Linked DNA regions of Homo sapiens: all the other regions are linked to region 3. The links come from fine-mapping of genetic effects on gene expression. A gene starts in region 3. Each other region holds a variant in brackets. All regions are shown on one strand. Distances are between the middles of the regions.

The links.
Region 1: its variant is fine-mapped to the expression of COLGALT2 in whole blood (TOPMed, PIP above 0.99).
Region 2: its variant is fine-mapped to the expression of COLGALT2 in cerebellar hemisphere (GTEx, PIP 0.99). The same link has a PIP of 0.9 or more in whole blood.

What each region holds. Positions count from the first base shown.
Region 1 is chr1:183,968,242-183,973,468 of GRCh38, forward strand. It overlaps COLGALT2 (collagen beta(1-O)galactosyltransferase 2), which reads right to left. Exons shown (of 12, transcript NM_015101.4): 5 at 1,028-1,232. Among named protein-coding and RNA genes, the nearest start is that of COLGALT2, 67 kb to the right of the region's middle. The variant T/C (reference allele first, on the strand shown) is at 3,152.
Region 2 is chr1:183,942,196-183,947,422 of GRCh38, forward strand. It overlaps COLGALT2 (collagen beta(1-O)galactosyltransferase 2), which reads right to left. Exons shown (of 12, transcript NM_015101.4): 9 at 3,237-3,369; 10 at 2,001-2,128. Among named protein-coding and RNA genes, the nearest start is that of COLGALT2, 93 kb to the right of the region's middle. RefSeq lists enhancers at 2,605-3,447, 3,448-4,290. The variant C/T (reference allele first, on the strand shown) is at 2,211.
Region 3 is chr1:184,035,645-184,040,871 of GRCh38, forward strand. COLGALT2 (collagen beta(1-O)galactosyltransferase 2) reads right to left here and starts at 2,084. Exons shown (of 12, transcript NM_015101.4): 1 at 1,451-2,084. The coding sequence starts at 1,713. RefSeq lists a silencer at 1,807-1,896.

The DNA of each region.
Region 1 (5,227 bases), 67 kb before region 3:
CAACTTCTGTCAGGAAAGTCTGAATTATCCTAACAAAGCTTTGCTCTGTTAGATGCCATGTGTCTTGCTGTTGAACTGCTCTTGTGAATTTTGTCCTCCTGAAGCAAGTGTAGGGTGAAATGAGAGAAATAACTTTCCTTCCTGTTGACTTGTCTTTCTCAAAAATCTCCAGGCCCCACTAGAAATGCTTTCCCAGTGGTTCATAAAAGACCTCAGTCTCGCTTTGCCTCTCCTTCCACAGGGACTGAGGCTGAGACTGTTCGGTGCCTCTTTATCTGTTCTTTCCTTCTTCTAGAGTGTGAAAATTGCAGTGCATGCATGCAGAGAATAAAGACGACATTCTGAGCCTCCCTTACAGTGAGGTATTGTCCTGTGACTAAGCTCTAGCTAACAGGATTTGCATGGAAGTACTGCATTCAACTTCTGGATTGCACACTTCAAGGGACAGGGAGAGTTCTCCCTGTTGTTTCTGCCTTGCTGGCTGAAACGCATCCATGGTGGTGAGACACCTGGGACTCCACAATTAAGGGCAGTACCTCGTGGAGTGTGAGAAGCAATACACAAGAAGCCTGGGACTCTGAACACTTTGTGGAACAAAGCCACTACAGCAGCTCAGACTTTTTCAAGAAGAAATAAACTTCCATTTTTAAAGTCTGGGGTCTTTGCCAGTGTTGTTTTAGGCCTCTGTGACAGTTTCCTAATTAATAAATGAACTTCTATAATAAACAATTGCAATGCAGTAGCACCACAGAGAAGCAATCACCTTCCCATAATTCCCAATATCACCACCAGTCCCTCCAACTCAAAATAGAGTGGGTTCCTGGGTAGAGGCCAGCCCTGGCTCTTGGTCATTGGTGCTCCCAGGGACAGCAACATAGAGGGTGCTGGTATGGTTATTGCAGACAATTTACTGCCTCTCACTACCAGACATATGAGGGTTTTTTTTTTTAATAAAATGCACAAAACAAAGGAGCTGGTCATTTTGCTGTGTCTCCATTGTGGCACTACAACCAAAGACAAACAGTACCTGCTTGCCTGCTGGAGAAGGCAAAGACAATGATGTCATCAAAGGTCCAGGTGTAGTCCTGGTGTGGGGGGTAGAAAGTCAGCTTGTCCGAGGCCTCCTTCCTGAGGTCAATTAGGAAGGTGGAGTGGACCATGGGGACGGGGAAGCAGCCTGTCCTCTTCCATTCTCGAATCTGAACGTAGTCTGGGGTCCTCTTATAGAAGCCCTGTAAAAGAGCAAATAGGTGGGTTGTGTTTTCTGATTTGAAGTCTTCATCCTTCTCAGTCATTTGCTAGACTGATTCCTTTCAAGTCATTACCAGCTATATACAAGCTCCCAAACAAAGCCACCTTCACTCCTCTTATCATGGCCTATGAATTTCCAAGTGAGCACAAGAAATGCTGTCTACATATAAAATAATACTAAAAGGGTCTTGATATAAGAAGTAACTTTTATTTCAGCATATCTCTAGATTTAATAATTTCATAAAAGTGTATTTTATGTTGACTTATGATTAAATATGAAGCATGAGTATTAAGAAGTGGCAGAGCAGTTAAGGGCACAGGTTCCAGTGTCAGACTCCCTGAGTTCAAATCCTACCTCAGCTACTTATTGTCTGTAGGTATGGGTCAAGTGACTCAACCTTGCTGCGCTTATTTCCTCATCTCTAAAACAGGGATGACGGCACTATCTACTCCATGGGGTTAGCTGTAAAATTTAAGTAAGGTAGAACCTGAATAGTGTTGAGACTACTGCCCAGCACCAAGAATGTATCAGCAAATACCGGCTCCTATTAAAATGACATTACACTGTGGCTAATATTTGTAATTAAACATGCATTACTTAGATATACAAATGAGGGTCTTCTTTCAATGCAGTTACTTAGTCAATATTCTGGTGAAGCTGCAGCTGCTCCATAGTTTTTGGGGATTCAGCTTCTGAAACGTCCTTCTGCACAAGCACACAGGACAACCAATTTCCTTATTCCAAAGCTTGAATCATTTCCAGAAAAGATGAAGATATATCTCAACAAAACATGCTTACAAAACATACTTGTGGAAGCTTTGCCAGGCATTTTGGAAAATGTTCTAGGTGATGGCAGGCTCACTGGAATGAGTGTTAAGTTTTGCAAAGCCAGCACTCCGAAGGGCACCATACTCTGGAAGTTCTTATGTGTTCATTAATCAGTTGCATCACTTCATGGTTACATTTCCTGTTGTAATTCAGCATCCACACATAAGGTGCTACAGCCTCACCTACTTCTCTGACATTCCCTTCAGGTTCTAGAAGAGTGTCCTAGCTGAGCTAACCCTAATGCCGACCCCATGATAAGGGAGGAGGATCAAAAATGAGGACTCAGAAGATGTGGGTCTCAGAGTCATCTTAATCACCTTCTAGCCGTTTGATCTTAGTCCATGCCTACCCTCTTTGAGCCTGAGTTTTTTCTCCTGAAAAATGGGATAACAGCTGCTCTGTCAATCTCATAGAGCTGCAGAATGAATCACATGTGATAAGGTCTATGAACCTATTTTGGGAACTGCAATTCATTATATGAAGTATTATCATTACTATAATGTTTTTATTAGCCTTTAACTTAAGGATCATTTAACATCCTCTATGGTTTTCCTAATACTTCAGCTTATGAGCAGTCTTCCAAGAGATAAAGGGGACTCGGGTTTTTTAAAGGGCTGCCTAAGTACTTGCGTCTAATATAAAGTTCTAGATTACTTAGGAACAATATTCCCAGAATGATTAGCTTGGAAAATCCATGATGATGATGAATCACTGAATATCCTTGGGGTGGGGGTGAGAAGGAAGGAAGCAGGGAGAGTGAGGGAGAATAAATGTGCCTCCTGCAAAGAGGCAGAGATGATGAATGTGTTCCTTTTTCCACATAAATTGAATCTTGTTGGTAATAATTCCTGTTCATTGGCCAGACAACATCAAGGACATTTTGTTTTGAATGAGTTTAAAGGCTCTGGGAACCAGGTCCTGCTTTGAATTTATGAAGTCACTGGCCCTTTCTATTCCTGCTCTAGTAGAGACTAACTGGGATGGTAGAAAGCCAAAAATAAATGGAGGAAAATAATACTTGTCCCTAAGTTGCTCAGAATTTAGTTTTACTGTACAAAACAAGTGAGCACA[T/C]TTCTCCTATTTGCTTTTAAGCCTGAAAGTAAATAAGGAGATAATACAAATTTGTAGGCTGCGGCCACTAGGATAACCCACCCTTGTTGCTGATGTCAAAGCACAACTCATTAAAAACAACCCTCAAGTGATTCTGCCATGTGAAACACTGAAAATGTATGAATTTAAACCAATATAATGTTTTCTCCCAAGGAAGTGAATGGCTGTTAGAAATATGAACATATTACCTTCCCAAAAGAGACACAGAAAATAGCACGCATTCAAAATCTCTTACAGCTAGAAGAAATAATTACAACAAAAGAGGAATGCTTCATCCAGTGGTGTACTGGACCACACATTGTTAAATTTTCAGAAAGTTTGCAAACCAGTTGACATGTTGATAGCTTGGAATCCATAAAAACAAAAATCACGTTAATCCCCACCACTCTAATGACACCTCATGTGGCAGTTTTACATGTTTTTAATAGCTGTATCATCAAGTGGCTATACTGCAGTTTACTTAACCTTTCCCTTAGCTTAACAACATTTAAGCTGTTTGCATGGTGGGAGTATTTAAACCATAAAAATTGGCAATGCTACCAACTAGGGTTTTTCCCACAAAGAGCCAGTTATTAAACATTTATCAGCACACTACTGACCTTATTTCTCATCCAAAACAAAACCAAATATAAAGGGGAGACTCAAACTTTAGCCCTTTGGCCATGAGAATACATTGAACATACTCCCTCTTTTTTTGAGACAGGGTCTCAGTTGCTTAGGCTGCAGTGCAGTGGTGTGATCATAGCTCACTGCAGCCTCAACTTCTTGGGCTCAAGCAATACTCCCTGCTCAGCCTCCCGAATAGATGGAACTATAGGTGTGCACGACACCACAACTGGTTAATTTTTTGATTTGTTGTAGAGATGTGGTTTCGCCATGTTGCTCATGTTGGTCTCAAACTCCTGGGTTCAAGTAATTGTCCTACCTCAGCTTCCCAAAGTGTTGAAATTACAGGCATGAGACACTGCTCCTGGCCAACATATTTTGCTTAGCACATTTTTATCCTACATTGATACATATTACATTAATCAGTTGAATTTATCTAATTCTTTAATTAAAGAATAAAAAATATAACCAGCCATGAGCATTCACTAAAACAGACCACTATTTTGAAGATTTTACTATGAAAAAAAGAAATAATAAAAAATCAAACCTTTTTTAACTTGAATTTTATAAAAATAACCTACCATGGTAGTTTTCATTATTAGAACTCTTTGGAAATAAATTTGGCAACATACATCGAAGGTCATTGAAATATTTGTACTTTTTTTTTTTTTTTCTTTTTTGAGAGGGAGTCTCGCTCTGTCACCCAGGCTGGAGCGCAGTGGCGCGACCTCGGCTCACTGCAAGCTCCGCCTCCCAAGTTCACGCCATTCTCCTGCCTCAGCCTTCCGAGTAGCTGGGACTATAGGCGCCCAACACCACGCCTGGCTAATTTTTTATATTTTTAGTAGAGATGAGGTTTCACCATGTTAGCCAGGATGGTCTCAATCTCCTGACCTTGTAATCCGCCCGCCTTGGCCTCCCAAAGTGCTGGGATCACAGGTGTGAGCCACCGCGCCTGGCATATTTGTACTGTTTGACTCAGTAATTCCACTTCTAAAAAGCTATCCTAAGGATATAATCTTAAATGCTGAAAAATTATATTAATCATGACGGTCACGATAGTTAAAAAGTTGTGAATAATTTAAATGTTTTTCAAACCGAGATAAAGGTTAAGTAAATTGGAACATAGCCACTTGATGATAACACAGTTACTAAAAACGTGCAAGTTTCTATCTATGATGTTGTTACGGTGATGGGGATTTAACATCTGTCTTGTTGGTTTTCTTTTAAACTTTTTTTAATTTCTAAGTTTTTCTATAGTGTTCTTATGTTAGTTTTGTAAGGACAAAAAGAATTAATTAAAAATAGTAATTCCTGAATCAGGAATTGGCTAATTTGACGTTTCTAAGGCTAAGCTCTTTAGACTATTTTTTTCATAATAAATTAACACAGAAGAGCCCAACTGGGTGTAGCATTGGACCCAGATTTACT
Region 2 (5,227 bases), 93 kb before region 3:
CCTCGGCCTCCCAAAGTGCTGGGATTACAGGCGTGAGCCACTGCGCCCAGCCCAGTTTACTTAAACAGCTGAAAATTTAGCTTCTGGATTGAGAGGTGTTCTAAGTGTAAAATACATACCAGATTTTGAAGAGTTGGTACAAAAAAAAAAAGAAGGTAAACTATGTCATTAATGGTTTTAAAATATTAATTACATACCAAAATGATGATACTGTTTGGATATTTTTGTTAAATAAAATGTATTAAAACTAATTTAGTCTAATTTATTTTTACCTTTTTAATGTGATTACTAGAAAACTGAAAATGACATATGTGGCTTGCATTATATTTCTATTGAACAACACTCCCTCAATGATTCCAATGACTTGTTCTATTCTTCCCTTTTATTATTTTCTTTTCCTGGAAAGATGTAATGTGGCAATCATGAACAGCTTATTACCTTTCATGTTTTAGGTTTAAGTAACATTTGTTTCTTTTTTGTTTTAGAAAATAACAGGTACAATTTAAAACTGTTACAGTTCTTTAAGACTATATAATAGATTTTAAGGGGATATTTTGACTTGATCAACCTGTGAAATTTAGAAAACATTTTTTTCCTGTATCCTTATCAAGACAACTGTTCTTCCTTCTTGCATCTGTCGGTACTTTGTCCTGAGAAATGCACCCACCGAACTACATGTGAACGGGAACGTATGCCAGCTCTAAACCTTAGATTCTCTGGGCTCAGTCTTCTGTGATTATGAGGCTTAAGTGAAGTTGCCTTTATACAAGTCACGTGGACATCAAGTAGCTTCCAGGCCTGTGAGGCCTTAACCACAGGCTGCGGAGCCATCCATTGAGAAAGGCTGAAGTGCAGCGACTTCTGGAGGATATAGGAAGAAACAGTGATCTCAAGGGACTGTGCAGAATGCCAAACCAAACCACATGACCACATGACTGAAATCTGACAGGGCATAGGTGTCTTATTACACAGTGACGCATTAGTTGAGCCATTGCTAGGTTTCTTCTGAGCTCAGAGTGGCCCATTTTCTGAGGGAACAAGTATTCCACCTGGGCCCACAGTTAAATACCGCCTGTGGGTGGGAGAAGCAGGGACAGCTCCTCTGCTGCAGCTGCTCCAAAGAAGCAGGCTCAGAGTTGATGAATTGCCTTTGACACACAGCTGGGAGCAAACACAATGCTTGGGAACTTTCTGCTTCATTGGAGAGAAATTGAAAGTGTCATTTGTTTTAAAAAGAAAATGAGAGAGAGAAAGGAGGAGGCAGAGGAGGAAGAAGAAAAAGGAAAGAGGAAGGGAGAGAGGGAGAGGAAAAATGAAAGGGAAGGGAAGGAAAAATGAAAGGGAAGGGAAGAAAAAAGCAGAAGCCACTCAATTCCCAGAGAGTAGACAAAGAACATTAACTAAATGTCAGCTCAGAGCCAGCACTCCCTTGGTGAGCCTGGTTTTCCTGCATCAGCCTCAGACCCTTCCCCAAATCTAGTTGTCCATGTTCTTCATGTTTGTGCAGCCCCATTTCCCAACAGAGGAGCTCCCTGGCTGACCCTCTAACCTCCCACCTTCTCGGAAGCTGCAGAGGCAACCTGCTGTCCCGGGAGCTGAGTCTTAAATATGACACAGGACTTTAGAGCTTGAATAAATGGCCTCTTCTCCAGCTTCACACCCACTCCATGTGCCACGTTAATTGAGGGTGGGATTTCTGCTGTGCTCCTAAGTAAGTGCTCAGTGCCACACCTTGGTTCTGTCTGAAGGTCCCTGATCTGCAGGCCGACTCCAGGTCTCAGACAATCTTCCACAGTTTCCCACCCTGAAGAGTAGAAGGATGCAAAATCCAGTGGCTAACCTCTACCCATTTTTATTTCTGAGAACATTTATGGAAAGAAAACTAGATAAGTGGAAGCTTAAGCTGTATCTCCTACTGGCTGTGGAGGTGGGGCTCTCTGCGCATTGGAAAGGACTGAGTGCCTCTCAGAGCCCTCTCGTAAGATCATCTTGTCACTCACATCAGTTCCCAGTCCAGCTGAGCCTGGTCAATGTTATCCATCAGCTTCATCAGCTTCTTCTTAAACTGATGCTCAAAACGCACATCGTCTTCAATTACAAGAGTCTTCTCTAGCTCTCGATCAATTACCTGCAAAAGTCATCAGTAGGAAGATACCCTATGAAAAGTTTGAAACCCAATTTTTATTAGATAAATAAGTATTAAAAAGTCA[C/T]GAGTCTAGTAGCACAGATTCATAACTGGAATCTAAGCAAATGGCCATCAACAGTAGAATAGATAATAAACTTTGGAATATTCACAGCAGTGAGGATATATGATCACAATTAAACGCAACGTTATAGGTGAATCTCCTAAATGTCATGTTAGGAGAGTACACATACTGCATGATTCCATTCATATAAGGGAAAGTACAAACAAAGGTAAAGCTATTCAATGCCTTTAGAAGTCAGGATGGTGACTGCCCTTGGGGACTGATGACCAGAAGGCAGTACGGGGTGGGGGGGTGCTTGTGGGATGCTGGTTACCTGCTTCTGGATCTGTGTACTGATTAACATGGGTGTGTTGTTTGGTTTGTGAAATTTCCCTGAGCTGTATCTTTTGATCTATATCTTTTTATACCTATTTATCACATTTCACTTAAAGTTTAAAGAAAACAAAGGCAGGCATAGACTGGATCATTAAAAGAGAAAGTGTTCAAGGGGCCTTTCTTCAGGGACTTTCTTTTTGGTTGTGGAAACTGACTGTTTATCAGGAACCCCACACACCAATATCTGCTCCAGATATGTCTTGATCTGTAAGACAGGGGTTCCACTTCTGGCTCTGCCACTTCTTACCGGGTCAAGCTACTTAATAATTTCTTCTTCGGTAAAGGTGGTCTGTCCTTCCCAACCCACCTCACATGACTTCTGTGTGATTTCTTGTATAAAATCACTTAATAAGTGATGTCATAATAGGTATAATAGAAGGCATTCCTGCTAATGATGATAATGAATTAATAAGAGTGTGGCACACAGGACATGGGTGTCTCCCCCGTCACCACCCCAAGTGGCACCAAAGCTACTCCTCCTTGCCCCTTTGTTGCTGGTCTTGGGTCAGAGGGAGACACAAGGCAGGAGCAGCTCTCATGCACATTTCCAGAACAGTTGCGGGCTCACTTTACATCTGGCCCTAACTCACCTACGATAGCCTGCTTTCCTTTCTCCTCATCATAAAACTGCAATCTGAATAAAGCATTATTTACCTCTTTCCAGACTGAGTAGTGGCTGAGAAAGCAGCCGATTTCACCCCTTGTTAGAGGCCTGGAGGAATAGGGATCTCGATAGCCAGGCAGCATTTCAATATTCAGTGCCTTCAGCTGGCTTGTGTTGAGTGCCCTGCATCACATAAAACACGTCTGGAGATTAACAAGTCAAAGGTCCCCACCACAAAGGCCAGAGAAAGAGAGAGTTAGTTCTGCAAACACCCCTCCCCCACACAGACAAAGACAGAGAGGCTTCCCTTTATTCCTTAGAAGTTCCTCCAGGCTAATGTGTCACACTAGTATTATGAGGTCTGGGAAGACAAGAGGGTATCATATTTTTGTGTATCCCTCATAGTGCCCAACATAGTTCTAAGCATCATCAGTTTTTTGACAAGATTTAATAAGTACACTCCTATGGAAATTAGTTAAAGTACTGCAATAATCCAAGGAGTGTTTGATCAAGACCTACTGCTGAATCTCTGTTAACACAGTGAGCTTTGTGAAGTTCACAGCTGCCCTAATCCTAACCTGTTCACCCCAGCCCTACAAAAGCCTTGAAAACCAGTAGCCTCACAACTAAGAGAGCGGCAAACCCCACCAACCCAGAAGCCACTGGCAGGGACAAAATGGACTGAGACTCCCTTAAAGACCTGCCCCCAGAAAATAATCTCTATTCAACCTGTCTAGTAGCTCCTTGAAAAGCTACATTCTCAGAGCTTGTCTTGATTTGACCTGACTCAGAGTTCATTTTCTGTGAACAGCACTATCTGCAGGTCATTTGTCAAAACCCATGAGCAACAACTGTTTAACATTACAGCTGTTTGAGAAGCATTATCAGCTGATGCTAACAAGAAGCCCACCAAAAAACTTAAAAGGAAAAACCAAGGAATAAGAGGTCCATAGGGAGTTTGATTTGCTCCAAAATATCCCTGAGAATCTAGAAGGCCCCAGGCATATTCAGGGCTGTCCACACGCCCAGGAAAAACTTGAGAAGTCCCTAGTCTCTCACCTCTGGCTGACCTTAAGGATCTGGAAAAAAATGTAGTGAAGGCAAATGAATAAAACACTGCAATGAAGGAAGAATTTGGCATAGTAAGTTTTAAAAATTAATACAACCATGTGGTATCTATAAGAGGCAGCCTTTAGATTAAAAGACAAAAATAGGTTGAAAGTAAAAGAATAGAAAAAGATATACCATATAATCAGCAATGACAAGAGAGCTGGCAGAGCTATGCTAATATTGGGCAAAATAAATCTCAGACAAAATTCATGCTAGAGCCAAGGAAGGACATTTTTTAATGATAAAAAGGTTAATCTGGGCCGGGAGTGGTGGCTCACGCCTGTAATCCCACGACTTTGGGAGGCCGAGGTGGGCAGATCAGAAGGTCTGGAGATCGAGACCATCCTGGCTAACACGGTGAAACCCCATCTCTACTAAAAATACAAAAAATTAGCCGGCCATGGTGGTGGGTGCCTGTAGTCCCAGCTACTTGGGAGGCTGAGGCAGGAGAATGGTGTGAATCTGGGAGCTGGAGCTTGCAGTGAGCCAAGATCGTGCCATTGCACTGCAGCCTGGGTGACAGGGCAAGACTCCATCTCAAAAAAAAAAGGTCAATCCATCAGGAAGGCATAACAATTATAAATACATATGCACCTAACAGAACCTCAGAACCATGAAACTGGAAGAATTGAAAGGAGAAACAGACAATTCAACAATAATAGGGGAAGACATCAATATCCCACCTGCAATAATAGAACTAGGCAGGAGGAAGACAAGGAAACAGAAGACTTGAATAATATCTTAAAATAATCAGACCTAGCAGACATCTATAGAACATTCCACCCAACAATAGCCAAATACACACTTTCAAGTGTGCATAGAACATTCTCTAAGAAATACCATTTTTTAGACCATAAAGACCATATAGGTCATAAATTAAGTGTCAGTATACTTAAAAGGATTGAAATCACACAAGGTATGTTCTCCAACC
Region 3 (5,227 bases):
GTAAATACTGTAACGTTTTAAAAAACTAAATCATGCATAAAGATCAAAACCATATTTTAAAATATCTCTTAAAAAAAACACAACAACTAAGGTAACTGATATGTGTGAATTTCTTTTGGTACCGAAGTGGTTAAAAAAAAATCCTTCCTTCTGGTTTAAAGCCTGGCTGTCCCAGTGCTCTCTTTCCACATAATATGCCCTTCTCCGCCAGGCGGTCACGTATGGCAGGGTATATAGTAAAGCAGTGTACAGCACAGAGCTGTACTATATCACATGTTTGCTTTCGCACCTTTGCACCTCTCCCACCAGGTACTCTGAGGCTGCCAATTCTAGCTGCTGCTTTTACTCCTCTTCCTCTCTTTGCCCAACCGCTGCTTTAAGGATGTGTCTCGCCTGAGAACAGCTCCCTTTATCAACACAAGACAGAAATTGCTCCAGAGTGACCTGGGCTCTGTCTTCCTCAGGGGGCCAGAGTCTTCTTGTCCGAGTACCTACCTGACAGCACATCTCCCCTGGCCAGCATCCACCTCCTTGTCCTCCACAACCCACTCAGCGGCTAACCTGGCCACCAACTAACTTCTCGCCCTCGGATCCTCGCGTTTATAAAAGGTGCGAGACGACCAAGTTCTACAAGGTGGGGCGGGCAGGCACCCGCACTTATCCCCTGGCCCTCCCCGCAGCAGACACAGGGACCAGGTCCAAGCTTCTTTCCTCCGGGGACAAAACTTGGCTGTTTATCTTTCCCAGGGCATCTTCGTCTCTCCCCGGGACGTGGAACCCCGATGCACCGGCAGGGACAGCCCGGAGCGCTCGCAGGAGACCAGGCCCACGGTGGTGCCATGGTTGGGCACACTCCGCGGGCTCCGCCCAATCTCCACCCCTAGGTCCAGGTCCCCCTAGGAGAGCTAGGAGCACATTTCCAGCCTGGAGCAGGAGCCCGGCACCGGAAAGTCAGAGCAGCGCACTGCGGCGCCCCAGCCACTGCGGAGCCCCTGGCCAACCGCAGTTACGTTCCATCTGTCGTATCTACATGGGAATACGGCGACAGGCACCCTATCCCCTCACGTCAGGGCTAGCAGTATGAGGTGGGGAAAGAGGAAACCTCGAGAGTTAAAAGCGAGGGAACTGAAAGTCCCCTTGAGGGGTGTCCCCCATGCCCCTTGTGGGACAAAGCCCCAATTCGCAGGCTACCCTCCAGAGCTCCAGCGGTCCGGTTCTCCCCATCAGCACCCTCTGCGCACACTGACCCGCGCGTCCCTCCGCAGCCTGACCGCCCGATCCGCCAGCCACCGGCGCGGGCAGCGAGGGGGTGTGTGCGCCAGATTTTCCGCGTGCCCCCCCGCCCCTCCAGCGGCTCCCTCGCCCTGCAGCTGCTGCTCCGGGCGCTGTCCGCGCTGGGCAGGCCGCCCCCGCGTCCCGCCGCGGCGGCCCGGGGCCCGTGCGCGCTCACCAGATGGCCATCCTGCTCTTGGGGTAGTCCAGCCGCTCCAGGCAGCCGAGGAAGTGCGGCAGCGTGTGCGCCGCGTTGCGGGCGAGGACCGCCACGAGCACCGTGGGGCTCTGCAGGGGCGACTCCGGGAAAACCACCGGCTCCTCTCCGTCGTCCTCCGAGTCCCGCTCGGCGACGAAGCGCGCTCGGCAGCCTTCGCGGAGCAGGGCTGAGGAGAGGAGCAGTAGCGACCAGGCGAGGGTGGCAGCAGGGCGCGCAGCCATGTTCCGGGCCGAGGCGGGCGGCGGGGAAGTCCTGGCGCGAGCGCCCGGCTGGGCTGCCTGAGGGCGGCGGCGGCTGCCGGGGAGCAAGGGGCTGCGAGGGGCGGCCGGGGGATGCGGCTTGCCGCGGCCGGCCGGCTCACACACTGGCCTCGGCGGCTGCGGTTCCCAGGACCCTCCCGCCGCCGCTGCACCGCCCAGGCCCCAGTGCGGGTGCGCAGCGTACCTGCAGCCGCTGGCGCTCCCCTGCGCCTCGGGCTCGCAGACAGTAGTGGCCGAGGGGCTGTGTGCCCTGAGTCCTGAGGAAAGTTCCTCTAGTCCAGGTTCCGCTCGTACAGCTGAGGTCTGTGGCCTTCCCTAGAGCCGCGAGTTGTGGCCCTGTCTGCCAATGAGCCTGTGAGTGTGTGTGTGTGTGTGTGTGTGTGTGTGTGTGTGTGTACATAACGGTACAACCCCAAGAAAATTTATTCTGCTTTTGCAAACCGCAGACTGAAGCCCTTCACAGTGATGCAATGTATCCAGTTTTCATAATGCACCTATTGACTGAGTAGAGTTCTAAAATGAAAAGTCTCCCCAACTATTCACGATTATGACAAACACTTGTTTAACCACCGCAAAGGCAGCATGTCGCATTTTCTTATATACTCAACTTCTGAAATTCATTCTTGACTGAGTAGACACCTAATAACACAAAGTTTGAAGACTTGGAGAATTTTGGAGCCAGATCAGACCCCGCAAAATAAAAGAAAGCCCTTGGGAGACACTGTCCTGAAGCCTCACTCTACTGTGAACCCAGTAAGCCTCCTCACAGGAGGGCTGTGAAAGAATAAATTCACTTAGCTGGTTTTCTTTTTCCGTAATAAGCCAATATGATAGAGTAACAAAGAGGGAAAATTCGCGCATGTTGGAGAGCAGAGAAGAGATAAGGAAGAAAAGAAGGGGTGAAGGAAGAACACAATTAGCACATAAAATGAAACTGCTGGCATACACTGCTAAAGGAGATTTACTTTTTTTTTTTTTTTTTTTTTGAGACAGGGCCTCACTCTGTTGCCGGGGCTGGAGTGCAGAGGCACGATCACAATTCACTGCAGCCTCGACCTCCTGGGCTCAAGCAATCCTCCCACCTCAGCCTCCCGAGTAGCTGGGACCACAGGTGTCCATCACCACGCCTAGCTAATTTTTTTTTTTTTTTTTTTTTTTGTAGAGACGGGTTTTCACCATTTTGCCCAGGCTGGTCTGGAACTCCTGGGCTCAAGTGATCTGCCCAACTCGGCCTCCCAAAGTGTTACGATTACAGGCATCAGCCACCATGCTCGGCTGGATATTTAGTTTTGAAGATATATTGTGTAGCCTTTGATAGATAAGTATGGAGGGTGTTTTGGTGCCAGTGCACATTCATGATCTCCAATCCCAACTCACCCTCAGGTCTGTCCCATAGTCTTTTTATTAGTTGTTATCAATCCTTCTCAGCAACTATTAGAAGTCTTCCCTACTGTCTTTTGAAGTATATCACCTCCTTCATCCAGCTCCCCCAACACCACTGTCTCCAACTAGCATCCCTACCAAGACCTTTCTTACTTGCAGGTGCCTCCTCACGACAGGGTCTTTGATCACAGACTAGAAAGGGAGAGGTCTCCCTTTCTAGCCCATGATTTTTCTCTATCATTCCACTCTCTACTGAATCTTCAACTGATCTCTATCAACTCCTTTCTCTCAAGCTAAATACTTGGTCAGTCTTCTCTTATCCGTTAAAAAAAAAAGAAAGAAAAGCTTTAAAAAAAAGTCCTGTGTCTTCTTCTAGTCATCCCTTTGCTTGACCAAGCTCCTTGGAAGAGAGATCTATACTTGTATTCTCCACTTCTTCATCTCCCATCTTTCCCACCACAGTGCAGTAAGGCGTCAGCCCTCCCCACTGTTCTGCAAAACCAACAGATGGCCTCAGCATTGGCAGATTCAGTAAACTCTTCCGTTCTCACCTTCCTGGACTTCGATTACATAATCTCCCATCCTAGATCTCCTCTGATACTACTTGTCTCTGAGCCAAGCCCCTTCACTGTGTGCCTCCCTATAGTGTGCTAGTCTTCCCACTCCATATGGTCTCCTGTGGTTATATCCTCAAAATCTATGTCTTCTGCTCTAATCTCTTCTCTAATCTTCATATTTTTTTATCGAATGGCCTACAGACATTTCCTTCCCCTCCATCCATTTTCAGGAATTGTTCCCACTTTCAAGGGGCTCACAGTCTTGTAGGGAAGACTGAGAGTTAAACATCTGTTAGAAGTACTGTAACAGATGTACCAGCTACAGTGAAGGGATAGAGGAAGATGTGGTCATTTCCACAAGGGAGGTAGTGATGGGACTGTTAGAAAGGTCCAGACAATCTCCATGTTGTTCTGTCTTTCTTGTTTCCCTTTCTTGAACTATGTCCCACTCATCTTTCAATACTAAAATCCGCACTCCTTAGCCAAACTTGGTTTGATAGTTATCATTTGTTCACTTTACTGCAAACAGAGGGAGTTTAAAGCTAGGCAACCACATTTCTGTCTTATTTTCCTTCTGTTACTGATATGGTCTGCCTATGTCCTCACCCAAATCTCACATCGAATTATAGCTCCCATAATCCCCACGTGTCGTGGGACGTAATTGAATCATGGGGGCAGGTTTTTCCCATGCTAGTCTCGTGATAGTGAATAAGCCTCACAAGATCTGATGGTTTTATAAAGGGCAGTTCCCCTGCACATGCTCCCTTGCCTGCCGCCATGTAAGGTGTGTCTTTGCTCCTCCTTTGCCTTCTGCCATGATTGTGAGGCCTCCCCAGCTATGTGGAACTGTGAGTCCACTAAACTTCTTTTTCTTTATAAATTACCCAATCTCAGCTATGTCTTTATTCACAGCGTGAGGACAGACTAATACAGTTACCTAAAGTCAACAGCTTATCTGAGTCTATTTTTTCAAAGAAAGGTGAAGCATCTAAACCTGTATGGTCTCTAATGACATTATAATGAAATCGGCTCCATGGAGTTCTCTTAAAATAACTACAACCTGCTCTGCTCTGTAGATGAAATCAAGGGTTTCCCAGCCACATAACCTACAAAACACCTATTTAAAACTTTTAATTGAGTGCTCATTTAGTGACTGAGAATATTAAGGTAATAACAGGGTATGCAACAGTAGAAGATCATTGTAAATATGGTTGGGAGGCAGTGGAGGGGAAGCCTGGGAAAAATTAAGTCCCCATCTTACTAACAGATTTGTTTCATAAGTTCTTCAGAAATCAGTAATGTGAATTTGGATGTTTCCCCCCCGCATAGGATTGATGTTATAAGACAGTTAATTTGAAAAAAAAAACTAATTTAAAAATAAAAGCCAATTATATTTTAAAATATTCATTGCTTATAATGCTCTTTCCATGGAAAATCGGCTGAATGGAAAGTCAGGGTTGTACACACATATCTCTTTGTCTCCACTGCCAGTAGACTGTTCCAATTGATTCTACATAAAGTTAGAAGTAAGCACT